Regions from separate parts of the Homo sapiens genome. Here region 1 is linked to region 2. A link means that fine-mapping ties the variant in region 2 to the expression of a gene that starts in the linked region. Tissue or cell type: lymphoblastoid cells. Region 2 holds a variant in brackets; the other region holds the start of a gene. All regions are shown on one strand. Distances are from middle to middle.

Region 1 (2,703 bases), 150 kb before region 2:
AACAGCACTTAAGAATACTAGGAAACCACAATCCCAAGAACATGGGGGTAGAGGCTACTGAGGGACCGAACACTCTCCACTTCCCTATGTGAGTTCCATACGCCCTTCTACAACTGGGAGAACCAGGGAAAGAGGAATGCATCCCTGGTGAGGCTAGATGAGCTCAAGCCTCCCTGTAGCCCTGCCTGGCCCTGAACTCAGGCTGGCTGTTTTACTTTCTGGTCTCAGTGCTGTCACCTCTTGCCAACTGTAGGGCAATGAAAAAAAGATGTAGCCTCCCACTATCTCAATGTCCTCATCGCCCCATCGCTGCTCTTCCTGTGAACAGTCTTTGGAAAAGTTTTTAAACCCTAACATAGGGCGGGCACGGTGGCTCACGCCTGTAATCCCAGCACTTTGGGAGGCCGAGGCAGGAGGATCACTTGTCAGGAGTTCCAGACCAGTCTGGCCAAAATGGTGAAATCCCGTCTCTACTAAAAATACAAAAAATTAGCCGGACGTTGTAATCCCAGCTGCAGGCTTGTAATCCCAGCTGCTGGGGAGGCTGAGGCAGGAGAATCGCTTGAACCCGGGAGTCGGAGGTTGCAGTGACCCGAGATCGCGTCATTGCACTCCAGCCTGGGCGATAAGAGCGAAACTCCGTCTCAAAGAAAAAAAAACTAACATAAATGGCGTCCCTCCTTTGTTCAGAACTCTCCGTGGCTTCTAGCATCCTCACAATGACAGTACAACCCTAGGAGTAACTCCGCCTCATATTCTTCGTTCCCTGCAGAAAACAGCTTTCCGAATTCTCCTGGCTCAGTCGCGCCTCAACCTTTGCACGCGCCGGTTCCTCCGCCTGTCACGCTCTCCCACACCTCGTCACACGCAGTGTCAAAAAAAGGGCCCCACCCACGAACGCCTCAGTGTCCCCGACCCTGGGCAGCGGGGACTCGAGCAGGCGCCCCTCACTGATGGCTTTAGAACGTGGGTGGGGGAAGGTGTGTGAGGACGGGAAGACGCCGCACTCACCTGAGTTGGCGTCCTCAGAGTGGCCGCTGCCATCAGACTCTGCGGGTAGAGCTGGGCCGGGAGCGACGGGCGACATTGGTAGGGACCCGGGGACAGCGGTCCCTATCCCAGGCCTGACGTGGGTCCCCCAGGGCGGCGTCGCCAAGGCTTAGACGCTTTCGTGCAGGAGGGACGACGACTCCCCTCACGCCTTCGTGGCCCCAACTCGGCGCTCTGCTATCTCTGATCCGGTGAACACACCTCAGAGAAGCTAAAATGGCCGCCACGAAGAGGCCCCCCCAAAAGTCCCGTCCTTTCTTTTTGTGACTCTCAAGGAAAGTCGGTTTTCTGAGCTCTTACTGGCTTAGTAGCGTGGCGTTCAACGCAGAGCATTCTAGGTAATGTAGTTTTCATAGATCCCGAGGTGGGTGCCGGGGACCCTTTGCACCAACCTCTTGGAGTAAAAGCGAAGCTCCAGGGCGCTGGGCGATGAGAAATGGCTTATCCAAGTCCTAGGGCAGTGGAGGGACTTCGCCCTTTCTTAAATGGGTCGTAATCAGACAGCATATTAGAGGTGCCATCTGCAACTGATCACCCAAGTGTTTGGGGAATATTATTTCAAACTTCATAAAGTTCAGCAGGCTCCCAGAGGCTAAAATTATTATCAGACGCTCCCTAAGGCTGCCAATCCAAATATGTACATCATTCCATAGAGCCATTCAGACACGAAATATATCCACTAGTAGGGAAGCTAATAAACATTACCATATAAGTTTATTCCTTTTTTTTTTTTTTTAAGACAAAGTTTCCCTCTGTCCCCCAGGCTGGAGTGCAGCGGCGCCATCTGGGATCACTGCAACCTCCGCCTCCCGGGTTAATCGATTCTCGTGCCTCAACCTTCCAAGTAGCTGGGACTATAGGCGCGCGCCACCACGCCAGGCTAATTTTTTGTATTTTCAGTAGAGACAGGGTTTCACTATGGTGGTCCCAAATTCCTGGCCCCAGGTGATCTGCCCGCCTCGGCCTCTCAAAGTGCTGGGATTACAGGCGTAAGCCACCGTACCCAGCCTCTATCATATTACATTTCAAATGTATGCACTCCGAAGCATTGAAGTCAGTCTGTGCACTTTTGGTCAGGGACAGGTGAAAAACTACTTCAGATAGTGGCATGATAGTGCTTCTAGAAGATAGAAGAGAAATGTTAGATCACCTTGAAACAGTAGTACAAAGGTAGAATTCTGTCTGATTCCAACAGAAAACATCTTTTGCCTGCATAGTCAATTATTGTGTCCAATTACTGTGTCCAGTCAATAACTGTGTCCAATTCACTGAGCAACGCTTTTATCCATTTCATAATTCTTACTTGATATCTGAGATATATTCCTTCTAGAAGTCTAACATCAATCTCAAAAAACAATGAAAGAAATGCTACTTTGATAAGAGACAAAGGGGAGAGGTGGGACTTCTTAATCAGAAAGCCGGTGAAATGCACTTGAAGGAAGTGAGAAATGAGCCATGTGGGTATTTTTAGAATAAATTCCAGGCAGAAGAAGCAGGTTACTAGAGTGCCTGGATGGATGGAGACTTCACAGGGCATTTCAGCATTGGAGGGCCTAGGGCTCCAACCCAGCAGGCCTTCATCTGCTTTGCTGGCTGCAGAGACACTCAGGGTATATAGGTGAGAAATCTCTTCTTTTTTTTTTTTCTTTTTTT
Region 2 (2,604 bases):
AGGGAGATGGGACATTCTGAGGGACCCGGAGGCAGGGTGCCACCTCCTCAACTTCCCTGAGGGCTGCCTAGAATCTGTTTCCTCTCACTCTGAATTATTCTTCCTCTTATGGCTGACCAAAAACATGGAACCTCACAAAGTCCACTGTAACAGCTTTATATTTGTGAAGTGAAGAACATGAAGACAGTTTCAAGCAAAGTTATTGAGTGGACACTTTGTGTTTTTTTTGAGAAGTCTCACTCTTTCACCCAGGCTGGAGTGCAGTGGCACGATCTCGGCTCACTGCAACTCCACCTCCCGGGTTCACGCCATTCTCTTGCCTCAGCCTCCTGAGTAGCTGGGACCACAAGCGCCCACCACGTCAGCTTAATTTTTTTGTTTTGTTTCTTGAGACAGAGTCTTGCTCTCTTGCCCAGGTTGGAGTGCCGTGTCGCAATCTCAGCTCACTGCAACTTCTACCTCCTGGATTCAAGCACTTCTCCTTGCCTCAGCCACCTCTTTAGCTGGGATTACAGGTGCGTGCCACCACACCCAGCTAATTTTTGTATTTTTAGCAGAGACCAGGTTTCACCATGTTGGTCAGGCTGGTCTCAAACTCCTGACCTCGTGATCCACCCACCTCGGCCTCCCAAAGTGCTGGAATTACAGGCGTGAGCCACTGCACCTGGCCTGTATTCTTTTCTTTAGTAGAGACGGGGTTTTACTGTATTTGCCAGGATGGTCTCGATCTCCAGACCTCGTGATCCGCCCGCCTTAGCCTCCCAAAGTGCTGGGATTATAGGCGTGAGCCAACACGCCCTGGCCACTTCTTGTCTTTGCAACATTTTTTAGATATGTATTTGTGTTTTTTGGGGAGCTTAATTTGCTAATGGAATCTCTGTTATTTTCCTAACATGCTTGGTGGATACAAGAGTTAAGACTTCCTGTCCCGTTTAGTGTAACAAAAGAAAGTTAAGAAATGTGGATAAAAGATTGTAAGTTAGAAATGGCAAGATAATCAGCTATATGAAGAATCTTGGCCAGGTGTGGTGGCTGAGGCCTGTAATCCCACCACTTTGGGAGGCTGAGGTGGGCGGATCACAAGGTCAGGAGTTCAAGACCACCCTGGCCAATATTGTGAATTCCTGTCTCTACTAAAAATACAAAAATTAGTCGGGCATGGTGGCGGGTGCCTGTAGTCCCAGCTACTCGGGAGGCTGAGGCCAGAAAATCGGTTGAACCTGGGAGGTGGAAGGTGCACTGAGCCAATATCACACCAGTGCACTCCAACCTGGTGACAGAGAGACACATCATCT[C/CA]AAAAAAAAAAAAAAAACTCAATCCATAAATGTTATACTTTATAACTTTATAACAGCATGTTATATGGGCTTAGATATTATCCCTAAATTTTTTTTTTTTTTTTTTTTTTTGAGACAGAGTCTCACTCTGTCACCCAGGCTGAAGTGCAATGGCATGGTCTCGGCTCACTGCAACCTCCGCCTCCCAGGTTCAAGTGATTCTCTTGCCTCAGCCTCCCGAGTAGCTGGGCCTATAGGTTCCCTCCACCACGCCCAGCTAATTTTTGTATTTTTAGTAGAGATGGGCTTTCACTACGTTAGCCAGGCTGGTCTCAAACTCCTGACCTCATGATCCACCCCCCTCGGCCTCCTAAAGTGCTGGGATTACAGGCATCTGCCACCGCACTCGGCTTATCCCTAGAAATCCTATGATAGCATGATGTATAGGCACCTAAAGGCATGGCACTTGAGAAATGTGAATAAGATTGTAAGTTACAAATAGCAAGGTACAGTCAGATGTTAACAGTCTCAGCCCCTAAATGTCACCTTGTATTACAGCATGTTATATAAGCACATACAGGCACATACATGAAATAGTGATACTTCATTCTCAGTAATATCTTCATCCTTCTCACTGGAAAGATCTTTGATGATTTTTAATCAACATAGGAGTTTCAATGATATCTAGAAGTTTAAAAGGGCTCGTTCAAACAAATTATGACCACACACACTGAAGAGTATGTTTGTCTCTTGTGGTGTAAATTTTTTTTTATTACACCAAATTATGTTCACACAAAACCTTTGTAATCAGGGGGAATTAAAGAGCCTTCCTGGAAAATGGAGGTTGCAATCAGCCGAGATGGTGCCATCGCACTCTAGCCTGGGGAATAGAGTGAGATCCTGCCTCAAAAAAAACAAAAAAATTCTTTATTTTCTCCATAAACTACAGTTTATATAAGCAAAAGTTTCAGTACTAAGCAATTTTAGTCTCTGCAGTCTCTTGTCTTGAATTAATACAACTTTTGTTAATTCTCTTATGAAGTTAATCTTCCTGCTTGTATGTGAATTAAATATATGTCAAACTTTTTTTGTACAAAAGATTCATACCTCTTTCCTGTTTGAAATTATTTTACTGTGTTTCATCAATCTAATGTTTATTTTTATTACACCAGTAATTTCCTCATTGTGTTGAATCTTACAGTGGCTTATAAATCTACATGTACCTAGAAATGTTTAGCCAGTCCATGTATATTTGATGTGGCACATTTTTTCCTTTGAATCACATACTCTAAGAGAAGTAACTTCCTCTTGCTAACCTCTACTTTCCCTA

Direction of the effects. Alleles are on the strand shown, and positions count from the first base shown. SD is a standard deviation of normalised expression in the study named.
With allele C in place of CA in region 2, the expression in lymphoblastoid cells of the gene that starts at base 1,277 in region 1 is lower (large effect, 1.6 SD a copy in TwinsUK).

The links. PIP is the estimated chance that this variant, and not a neighbour inherited with it, causes the effect.
Region 1: ZNF154 starts here. The variant in region 2 is fine-mapped to the expression of ZNF154 in lymphoblastoid cells (TwinsUK, PIP 0.95).

Annotation. Positions count from the first base shown.
Region 1 is chr19:57,707,928-57,710,630 of GRCh38, forward strand. It overlaps ZNF154 (zinc finger protein 154), which reads right to left and starts at 1,277. Exons shown (of 3, transcript NM_001085384.3): 1 at 1,012-1,277. The coding sequence starts at 1,044. RefSeq lists enhancers at 865-1,504, 1,248-1,377, 1,398-1,457.
Region 2 is chr19:57,862,746-57,865,349 of GRCh38, forward strand. It overlaps ZNF587 (zinc finger protein 587), which reads left to right. Exons shown (of 3, transcript NM_032828.4): 3 at 1-2,372. Among named protein-coding and RNA genes, the nearest start is that of ZNF587, 14 kb to the left of the region's middle. The variant C/CA (reference allele first, on the strand shown) is at 1,296.